Homo sapiens: one gene and its partners. The protein of the gene in region 2 interacts with the protein of the main gene of each other region in a pairwise test. Each region holds a gene or a part of one and is shown on either strand. Other genes may lie near its edges.

Evidence for each region.
Region 1: the proteins of TMEM120B (region 2) and ANKS6 interact in binary tests that used the Homo sapiens proteins (3 or more experiments, as listed by UniProt).
Region 3: the proteins of TMEM120B (region 2) and APOA5 interact in binary tests that used the Homo sapiens proteins (3 or more experiments, as listed by UniProt).

The regions. Positions count from the first base shown.
Region 1 is NC_000009.12:98,775,927-98,779,673, forward strand, and holds part of ANKS6 (ankyrin repeat and SAM domain-containing protein 6), read right to left. Parts: intron 2,499-3,747; coding exon 2,300-2,498; intron 1,529-2,299; coding exon 1,479-1,528; intron 1-1,478.
Region 2 is NC_000012.12:121,771,735-121,775,481, reverse strand, and holds part of TMEM120B (transmembrane protein 120B), read right to left. Parts: intron 2,062-3,747; coding exon 1,969-2,061; intron 825-1,968; coding exon 760-824; intron 421-759; coding exon 352-420; intron 1-351. UniProt on the Homo sapiens protein: Necessary for efficient adipogenesis. Does not show ion channel activity.
Region 3 is NC_000011.10:116,790,029-116,793,775, forward strand, and holds the start of APOA5 (apolipoprotein A-V precursor), read right to left. Parts: upstream 1,852-3,747; 5' UTR 1,833-1,851; coding exon 1,784-1,832; intron 1,670-1,783; coding exon 1,558-1,669; intron 1,040-1,557; coding exon 100-1,039; 3' UTR 1-99. UniProt on the Homo sapiens protein: Minor apolipoprotein mainly associated with HDL and to a lesser extent with VLDL. May also be associated with chylomicrons.

The DNA of each region.
Region 1 (3,747 bases), on a different chromosome or scaffold from region 2:
TGGGCAGATTGGGTCAGGACCCCTCGCTGGGCTCTAAAGTTCCTGACACTGCTGATGCCTTTTCTGGGAGCCCCCTCTGCTCCCTTGTCCTCAGCAATACTGCCCTCTGCTGGCTAGTATTAGGGTCTTAGCGCTAAAGGGACTCAAGTCCAACTTTAACCACTAAGCTCTCATGTCAGAGGAAACAAACGTGAAACCCAGAGAGGGGAGGTAACACATCCAAGTTCACACCACGGAGCTTATTCTGGGCCAGACACTATGCTAAGAACTTCCTGGGAGTGATCTTGTTTAAAAACCATAACCATGAGGGATCCCCGAAGTCAGAGACTGCAAACTGTCCCCCAGTATCTACTTTTCACATCTTAGAAATGACACCCCTAATGTTCATTTAGATGGGCACAGGACCACTTGGAACAAAGACTTCATTTCCCAGCTTCCCCACTGTGATTTAAGCAGAGTAGTTGCCAAAAACCCTTTTTTTTTTTTTTTTTAAAGACAGAATCTTGCTCTGTTGCCCAGGCTGGAGAGCAATGGCACGAGCTTGGTTCACTGCAACCTCCACCTCCCGGGTTCAAGCAATTCTCCTGCCTCAGCCTCCCGAGTATCTGGTATTACAGGCGCCCACCACCATGCCCAGCTAATTTTTGTATTTTTAGTAGAGATGAGGTTTCACCATGTTGGCCAGGCTGGTCTCAAACTCCTGACCTCACGTGATTCACCTGCCTCCGCCTCCCAAAGTGCTGGGATTACAGGCATGAGCTACTGTGCGTGGCCCCAAGAAACTTCCTTAAAGACAGCTGGCATGTGCCCATGGCTACCTCTTCTCCCCTCCTCTCTCCTGCTGGCTGGAATGAGGCCGTCATGGGCCAGAGCTCTGGCAGCCATCTTGAACCAAGAGGTGACCTGAGAAACAGAAACTACACATGGGGGACCAACAGGCAGAAAGGACTCAAGTCCCTAACTCCAATGAGCCATATACTAGTTCTGGACTTTGTTTACTTGAATGAAGTAGGCTGCTGTCTTATTTACACCATTGTTACTTGGGGATTTTCCGTTACTCACAGTTGACCCTAATCCTAATACATCTCTAAGTTACAGATGAGGAAACTGAGGCCTCCCCAGCTGGAAACATAGCCTCCTCTTTGACTCCTCTCACCCTGGTTCTCCACAGCCCAAATGGTGAGTCTTCATTTCTCATGCTGCCCATCAATTCCTACCCTCAATCCCCTGCCTCCATGAGAACAGGGCCAGGGCTGACACCCAGCGGGTGAGCACCAGCACAGCCCTCTCCACAGTTTAGAGCTGGCATCTGTTCTGACTCCTCAGTGCCAGAGCTAAGCCCACTGTTACACATTCTCATCACCAACCCTATCTGTGACCACTACAAAGACAGACAAACACCTACATCCCTCCTTGTAAATCAATCAACTGATGATTGCCGGAGACCTAAAATGCTTTTAGAAAAGCCCCACACTCACCATGGTTGTCAATAACGTGTCTTCCTTTTCTCCTCTTGTGCTCCCAGGACCTGAGAGACAAATGGAAATTTCCTGAAATGACCCCTCCACGTGTCCACAGCATAAGGATGAGTGACTGGGGCAGGCTTCAACCTGGAAAACCAACTCTCCTGGGTGCTTAAATATTTAATAATAATTGGTATTCGATATTTTAATAGAAGGAAGGCATTTAAAAGGTATATTGGAGCATGTTTTCAGCTTTTCCATAAACCACTGCCGTACTGAGTCAGACAGTGGTGCCCCCAGCTCAATAGTCTGTCTCAGACAGTGGTGCCAAAGTAGCTAATCTGGTCATGGGGAATCTGACTGTTAGAAGGGATCTTATCTATGTTCCAGTCAGTATGGGAATCTCCTTCAGCAAACTGACAAAGTTATCCAAGCTGTTGAATACCTTGAGTGACGGGGAGCTCACTACTCACACCCTCCCAGTAACTCATTTTATTTCAAGATGCTTTCAGTGTCATAGACCAATCACATTTCAGAGGTGGGGAAAACCACCTATCAAAGGCAAGAGAGAGGACGACTCCCTGTCGTCCCTCAGCAGGGAGTGTGGGACAGGAACCTGGGCCTCTTGCCACTGGCCAGCACCTTCTCATTCTATCACACTCTTGGTGGTTGTGTCCCTGCCTAAGTATCTTTTCCACCAGACCAGCCTCTATGCTCCAGTGTCCCATTCCAACATCATCTTACCCCTGACAGCAACCCAGGAGGTAGGATGAAGGGCAGAGGGTACAGGCTCAGACCATTCCAAAAATTCTACTGCACATGCAGACTTTTCTCACCATTGTCTTTGGTCACAGGGGCCGCATCAGGGAGTGCAGAGCGGCTTGTCTTGTCCTGGGGGGCAGCCCTCATTGTGGAGTCCAGAGCTGGCTCAGGCTCGTCAGAGAAAGGCAAAGGCTGGTTGCTGGACAGCCCACGGGGCAGCGTCTGCATCAGTTTGAGCTTTCGGAACCGATTGGACATTCGGTTCCACCAGGACTGCCAAAGGAACGCAGAGCAGAAGTCATGCTCCAGGAAGGGCAAGGAGACCAGGCCCAGGACCTGCCAGCCCAGAGACAGTGACTACATTCACATGTGCCTGCCCTCCCCTCTCCTGGGGCCCAGACAGACATTACTGATCAATGATAGCACCCATTCCCAATAAGCCATGGTTACTCACTAAATCTTTCCTGACCCAGCCCTTAGGCAGTCACTTCCAATAGCCTGGAGGTGGCAGTGAACCCTATTTGCCACCCCTCATCTAATCAATCTCCTCATTGCACAGATTGAGAAATGGAGACCCAGACAGGATTGCTGACTTGCTTGAGGTCTTACAGTGAGACAGGGACAGATGGACACAGAGGCAGCTCCAGATTCCTAAGCGTCTACAATAGCATAATCTCCCTCCTCCTGCTCTGGTGATAACGTGAGAGGCATCAGGATCTCTATACCAGGGCCTGGGCCAGCTGCTCCTATAGCTGAGCCTCACCTAGAGAGGACAGGCACTACCTCCTGGGAACGCTTGTAACCCATGACCACTCAGAGGTTAATGAACAGCCACGAAGGGCATCTGTGAGGGCCTGCCTGTGGAAATGGCAGTAAGAGCAGGAATGAAGGGAGCTATGAGAACAACACAGTCAGGAAGGATGCAGAGCTTGAGCCAGCAATGGACACAAAAGGAGCGCCGAGTCTGCAGCCCTCAGAAGGCGCTACCACCCCATGCAGACTGGGGAGGTCAGCAGACAAGACCAGTGTGTTGTTTTGTTTTCTCAGGCATAAAGTAAGTTTGATTTCAAACAAGTAGAGCAGGATGTGGAAGATGAGAAATCCAAAGAGAAAGTCTCAGCTTGCAGTTACAAGCAGCCACCAGAGCTTGTTTCTGGTGTTTCCAGGAAGCTGGCAGGGCCTGTGGACTGCAGGGAGACCCCAGAGTGGCATGATCAGCAAATATCCTGCACAGTAAAGCAGAGGCTGCAAACGGATTCCTTGGGAAGAGAAGTGTTTGCTTTGGCCAGCTCAGTACTACATCATGCAGAATTTTCTAAAATTCCCTGTACTTATAAATTAAGATTCCATATCAAAATCTGGATTTCTATTTTTTCCTTTAAAAAAAAAAGAGAGAGAGATCTAGTAATATGGACCCACATTCCTTTTTGAGACAAGTTCTTGTTCTGTCGCCCAGGCTGGAGTGCAGTGACGTGATCTCAGCTCACTGCAACCACAGCCTACCAGGCTCAAGCTTTTTTCT
Region 2 (3,747 bases):
CAGAGATTCAGGAGACCTGGGGGAAGGGTGAGGCCTCAGGCTTGGGCAGGGCCTGGGAAGGGCTCGATGGGGCGAACCTCCTTGGGATCCACAGATTGGGAGAGGCTCCACCCCTAGCCCTTCCAGAAGCCTCCCGCCAAGCAGGCCCCCCACAACACCCCACACCTGCCAGCCCAGCCCGCCCCAGGAACCTCCCCACAGCACACCACACACACGCACACACCCCACCCCCACATCTGCCATCCCAGCCCTCCCCAGGAATCCGCACCCCAGCATGCCACACATACACCCCATCCCTGCCACCCCAGCCCTCCCGGGAACCTCCCCCGAGCATGCCCCCACCCCCCATACCTGCCATTCTCTGCATTCCTCGTGGCTGGAGAGCTCAAACAGCGTGACGGCATTGTAGAGCTGCCAGAACTGGAGAGGAAGGCAGGCGCTGCTCACCCACCAGACTCCCCTGGCCGGCCACGTAGAAAGCCAGGGTGATGGCCAGGCCCCTCACCCAACTTTGGGTATCAACTACCCACAACACTGACAGACACCCCCAAAATGAAATGCAGGCACCCGAGGCCAGGGCAGAGCTAGGTCAGTTCTGGCTCCTGCCTTGGCATCCCTGGGCCCAGAGGCTGCCCCGGCCCCAGGATGCTGTGGGCCCCAGCATGGGGACGGATGGAGAAGGAGGGCAAGGCCTGAAGACCTTCTGTTCCTGGGGGTCAGCCCAGACAGGAGATACCCACAAACTCCAGGGGGACTCACATGGCCACAGAAGAGGAAGGGCAGGAGAAAGGTGAGGCCCCGCCACATCCAGGACTGGAACCCTTCTGTGGAGAGGAGGGAAGAAAAAGGACCCGCTGAGGGGGTCCGCTGCCCCCACAGCTCCACCAGACGCCCACCCCCAGCCACACCAGTCACCCTAAGATGAGCCAGGGACAGTCACACATGCGGGGGGTCAGCCCTCACCTGTCATAGCTGGGTGGGCATTCACTATGACAATAGCAACCCTGTCACCTGGCCTGACTGCTCTCTCTCTTCAAGCCACCAAGAGCCAGGTGACAACACACAGACACTGGGCGCTATGTTGTTACTAATTTCTTTAATCTGCACAGGGTTTTGCATTTTATAATGAATTTTCACATGCATTAGTTCTATCGAGTCTTGAGACAGGAGGACCTACTTAGGAGAGTAATTTGATGGAAATGACTATGTCAAAAGACAGCAGAGTTGGCCAGGTGCAGTGGCCCACGCCTATAATCCCAGCACGTTGGGAGGCCAAGGTGGGCAGATCACTTGAGGCCAGCAGTTTGAGACCAGCCTGGCCAACAAGGTGAAACCCCATTTCTACTAAAAATACAAAAATTAGCCGGGCGTGGTGGCACATGCCTGTAATCCCAGCTACTCAGGAGGCTGAGGCGGGAGAATCACTTGAACCCGGGAGGCGGAGGTTGCAGTGAATAGAGATCGTGCCACTGCAATGCAGCCTGGGCAAGAGTGAGACTCCGTCTCAAAAAAAAAAAAAAAAAAAAAAAAGATAGCAGAGTTGTATTAAAAACAGTTTCCCCTGAAATTCTCAATGAGGTGTCTCCTCACTTTTCTGGCTGGCACTCCTATGGCTTCAGAGTGAGGCATGTCTCCCCCGTGTACATGCATTTATATACTTATACGTGTTGGTATGTAGACATGTTACACACAAATGGCTAATTTGTGTGTGTGTATTCTAGAACACACACAAAAAAATAGACACTTCCAGAGGCTGAGACAGAGGCCCTGCCCTCGGGGCCTGGTATGCAGCTGGCCTGGCACTTGGCAGCTGAAACAGAATCCAGGATGAATTCTGGAAGGCGCTTCGGATAAAGGGCAGCGGCCTGGCTCCGCTGTATGGGAGGTGCTCGCAGGGCTGCACTCCCGGTGTGGGGAGCTGGCAGGTCCAGTACCTGCCCCGGCTCCAACCCAGGCCCAGCTACTCACCCACTGTGAGATCCAGGTGGTTCCTCTCCCCCAGGGCCCGCAGCCGGTAGAGGCAGCCCCTCTGGTAATAATATTGCAGGAACTGGACGCAGCCTGCAGGGGGAGCACAGCACCTGGGCTCAGGGCCTGGTGTCCCCGGAAGACAGGGCCACACCTCTCTGCCCCAAGCACAGGCTGATGGGTCTTTACTGGGCAGAAGCAGAAAGGGTGCCCTGGTTACAACCCTCTCCCACGCCCACACACCACAAACAGACACACACACTCTGGTCTGAACCTGCTTTAGCCCTTATCCAGAACACAGAGAGAACACAGGTATGTGAGGACCCATCTAAGCCCCAACTAGATTTGAAACTTCTGGAATTTTCCATGCAGTAGACACTCAATAGATGCTTGCTGGAATGCAAGCTATGCCAGTGCTATGTTGGGAGCTCTGTGCAATGCTAAGACACAAGACAGAGTTCCATCCAATGGGATACTTCGTTGTTGCTAAAAATGAGGTGGTAATGACATGAAAAATAGCCATGATAAACTGTTAAAAATTCAAAAGGCAGGTTATAATAGTAAAGCTCTATGTACAGAAAGGTCCCATACTTGTAAAAGATACATAATGTAATACACACATGTATATACCTATTTATGAATAAAAACTTTTGAGAGGACATAGATCTTAACTAACGTCACCTCTAGGGTGGGCTGATATACAATTTCCATTCTTGGCTTTATACATTTGTATTTGTTTGCAAGCAGGTTTTAACTTAAAATGTAGGTTGTAGTATCTGAAAAGTCAATACAGCCAGGCGTGATGGCTCATGCCTGTAATCCCAACACTTTGGGAAGCCAAGGCAGGCAGATCCCTTGAGGCCAGGAGTTCAAGACCAGCCTGGCCAACTGGTGAAATCTCATCTCTACCAAAATACAAAAAGTAACCAGGCATGGTGGCAGGCACCTGTAATCCCAGCTACTTGGCAGGAGAATCGCTTGAACCGGGAGGTGGAGGTTGCAGTGAGCCGAGATCACAACACCGCACTCCAGCCTGGGTGACAGACAGAAACTCCATCTCAAAAAAAAAAAAAAAGAAAGAAACGGTACGGCGTGGTGGCTCATGCCTGTAATCCCAACACTTTGGGTGGCAGAGGTGGGTGGACCACCTGAGGTCAGGAGTTCCAGACCACCCTGACCAACATGGTGAAATCTCATCTTTATTAAAAATAAAAAAAATTAGCTGGGCGTGGTGGTGCGCACCTGTAGTCCCAGCCACCCGGGAGGCTGAGGCAGAAGAATCGTTTGAACCCAGGAGGCGGAGGTTGCAGTGAGCCAAGATCGCGCCACTGCACTCCAGCCTGGGCAACAGAGCAAGACTCCATCAGAAAGAAAGAAAGAAAGAGAGAAAGAGAGAGAGAGAGAAAGAGAGAAAGAGAGAGAGAGAGAAAGAGAAAGAAAGAAAAAGAAAGGAAGAAAAAGAAAGAAAGAAAGAGAAAGAAAGAAAGGGAAAGAAAGGCAATACACACATGGGATAAAATTTAAAGGGAACAAACAGGTTGGTGAAAAGTAAGACGCTCTCCCTGTCCCCAAGCATTCAAGCCCCCTTCCCCAGAGGCAACCCTTGGGACCAGTATACAAATCCAGAGCAATTTTCAGATGAGAAAAATAATATATATTTCCATTTGGAGGACTTATTTAGGACTGGAAAAAAGGCTGGTATCCCCAATGCTACTCAGTTCCCAAAGGTCACAGTTGGCAGGGTTCCAGCCTGGGGAAGGAGCAGGCAGTGCTGGGGGC
Region 3 (3,747 bases), on a different chromosome or scaffold from region 2:
CCACCCAACAGGCCACTTTCAAGGACTGAACCATGCTAGAGGCTCAGAGCCAAGGCTCCCCAGACAAGGAGCTGGGAATGGGCCTGGGCAGGTAGATCCTCAGGGGTCCCCCAGATGGCTGTGGCCCTGGTCATGAAGGCTGTGAGTGATGTCTTCCCACAGGTCATCCAGACGGGCCTGCAGCTTGCTCAGAACCTTGCCACTGTCTGTTTGTTGAAACTCTGGGGCGAAGGCACTGTGGCCTGGTGGAGGTGGCGCCAGCTGCTGCTGGACCTCCTCAGTCTCCTGGTCGATGGCGCGAGTGAAGGCAGCTATCTGCAGGTAGGTGTCCTGGCGGAAAGCCTGAAGTCGCTGGCGCACCTCCTCGGAGAGCATCTGGGGGTCCGGGCCGGCCCCTTCCTCAGTCCCAGTGCCTGCAAAGGCTCTGCTGAGCTCTTCGCGCAGCTGGTCCAGGTTCTGCTGGATGCGTGCGTGCAGGGCCTTGGCCTTGAGCGTGAGCTTCCGGGAGAGCACCTGCACGCAGCGACTGAGGCGCGCGGGGCTGGCGGGGGCGTGCGGAGCCACACTGCGGTGCAGCTCCTGCACGTGGCGCCCGATGCCGCTCACCAGGCTCTCGGCGTATGGGTGGAAGAGCTCTTTGAAGCGGCCGGTGTGGTGCACCACGCGGCTCTGCAGTCCCTGCAGCAAAGCCCAAGCCTCGTCCACGCCCCCCAGCAACTGGGCCTTGGTGTCTTCCCCCACCACGCGCAACTGCTCCTGCAGCTCCTGCACGCGCAGGGCCACCTGCTCCATCAGATCCATCGTGTAGGGCTTCAGTTGCTGCCGCAAGCCCTCCAAATTCCAGCCCACCAGCTCGTGCGCCTCTGCCATGTAGGGCTGGAGGCGAGCCTTCACCTCCTCCAACTCCTCCTGCAGCTGCCGCCGCATGCCCACCGGGTCCTGTGGGAGCCGAGGAGCCTCGCTCCCACTCAGAGGCCTCAGCTTTTCCAGGAACTTGTTCATATTGTTGAGGTCTTGCTCAAGGCTGTCTTTCAGGGTCCTGGAGAAGGGGACAGATATCCAGGCCGTCAGACTGCTAGCCTCCATCATCTCCTTTGTCCCCAAGTCATCGCGCACTGATCCTCTGGGGGAACCAAGGACGCAGGGCGTTGGCCCCAGGGTCGAGGGCTCTTGTCCTAGCCCTGGCCAGTAACAACTCACGCACGAAGCACAAACACATTGCCCATACAAATCCAGACCTACAACACTCTCCAAAGAAACATAGATGCGCCACATCATCCTTTGATTCTGGGGACTGCAGCGGGCGTCCTCCCGATTGATCCCAGGTCCCGCGCCTCAGTGAGCAAGGGGGCAACAGCTACGGAGTTGTCAAGGCGGGGGCTGCAGGCAGAGGGCGCTAAAGAGCCCAGGATGGCCGGGATCTGCAGACAGAGCTAGCACCGCTCCTTTCCTCTGTCCCAGCAGCGGCCACAGAGGTTGAGGCAGCAGAGGCAGGTCATCATGGCATGGCCCAGCTGTCTCCTCCCTTCGCCTACACCCCTTCCCCTGGGCACTCACGCGGGCTCGCGAGCCATCTTCTGCTGATGGATCTGCTCCACCCTGCCTTTGTCCCCGCTGGTCTGGCTGAAGTAGTCCCAGAAGCCTTTCCGTGCCTGGGTGGCCGAAAACGCTGTGGAGAGGGACTAGGTAATCAGGGCCTGGGCTCTCCTCCCCCAGGGTGGACAGGGCCCTCTGGCCAGCCTCCACCCACACCCCCACGTTGAAGTCAGGGTCGGAGACCCACCTGAAAGAAGAGCCAGAGCCCAGGTGAGCACGGCAGCCATGCTTGCCATTACCTGCTCTGAGAAGACAGGTGGAGGGAGGCCTGGTTAGGGGAAGAAGGAGACGAAGGGACATGGCGCAGGGGACTTGCCCAGGGGGCCTCTGCAGGGGCAACTGCCCGAAATCCTGTTACCCCTTCCTTGGGCTGGGGAGCACAGAGCTGTTGGGGCTCAAGAGGACTGACCTAGGTGAGTCAAGGAGGCTAGGGTGTCTTCCTCAGACATGGGAAGAGGGCGTGCTCTTGCTACCTCAGTCACATAGCAGGGAGCGTGGTGCTCTAACCCCTTCGCAAAGGTCCCAGACCCCAGGAACAGTTCTCTAGGCCACTTCTACCACCTCTCCCCTGCCCACCTGTCTCCCTCCCTCCCATTTCATGGTGGAAAAACTGAGCCATAATGAGGGCGAAGAGGCAACTCTGCCAAAATGTTCCAAGAGGACGTCTTAGGGGCCACCCCAGGCTCTCCCCTGAGGCCACCTGCAATGCCCTCCCTTAGGACTGTGACCCCCATCCCTCTGCCCCAGCTGCTCACCTGCTCACGTCTGGGCACAGAGAGCAGACATTCTGCTTTATACTCCAGGGCCCTGAGCCTCTGGCACCAATTGCTCTGAGTAAATACCACGTGGAAGTTCAAAAGAAGTTGACCTCAGCTGCCTCCCAGCACTCACCTCCTGCCCTTTCCCTGGCACCCAGAGGGTTAATGAGTGCCCTGGTATCAGGGGCTGCCCCAGTAGAGAAGTGCTTCCCAGGAGCTTTACGGGGGATGGGGCTGAACTCCTCACCCAGTTTCTCCCAAACCCCATGACCTTTAACCTTCCCACTGACCTGCTGGCTGGCCCACCAACAGAGAAGAACCTGTTTGTCTGCCAAGGGCCCCTCTCTTACACAACTACCCAGAGTCACTGTGTCCCAGCCGGCAAGATGGACAGTGTTCACCTACCAGCCAGAACCCGAGCAGCCCCTGAAAGCTTCACTACAGGTTCCGCAGGCATCCTCAGCCAGCATTCATAGGGTTAAAGACCAACCACATCCCTCTTTATGAAACAATCCTGGAACAAGCAAGGGAAGCCAGGCAGGGTGAAGATGAGATGGCAAGAGGCATCTGGGCCAGGGACTCTGAGCCCCAGGAACTGGAGCGAAAGTGAGATTTGCCCCATGAGGAAAAGCTGAACTCCACTCGCAGGGCCTCTGAGGAGAGCAAGCCCAAATGCTCAGATCTTCTCTGATGACACACCCACTCCGTCTACAGTACTCATACACACGTTCACAAGCTCCCGATTCTTGGTCCTAAATGCATCTTGAATCAATCCCCTCTCCTCCATTTCCACTACCATCATTGCACCAGTTGTCTGTCACCTTGATTGCATTCATAGCCTCCAACAGGTCTTTCTACCACACTCCTGCCCATTTAATTCATCCTCCACTGTGGCTCATCCTGACTCATTTCCAGTCTCATCTGCTGCCACATAAAACCACGGCATTCCCTGAGCCTTTATACAGGCTTCCCTCTGCTTGAAATAGCCTATCCCCTGGTGAATATATATTCATTTTTTAGAGTTAGTTTGTATTAGTTAGAATTAGACTTGGCTGCAAGGGACATATATATGTGTGTATATATATACACACACACATGTATATTTTATATTCTTGCATACATATATGTATATATATGTGTGTGTGTATATATACACATATATATATACAAGATACTGCTCTTACCACTCATACTGACATCCCATTGGCCACAAGTTAGTCACATGGCTACACTTAGCTGATATATATGTGTATATATATATGCAAGAGAATAGCTTAAACAAAATGGAGTCTTATTTCCTTCTCATGTAAATGTAGGCCAGCTCGGGCTGCTTTTATCTTGTTGCACTATTATCATCAACAAGACGCTCATATCCAAGTTCCAGCTGCTTCAC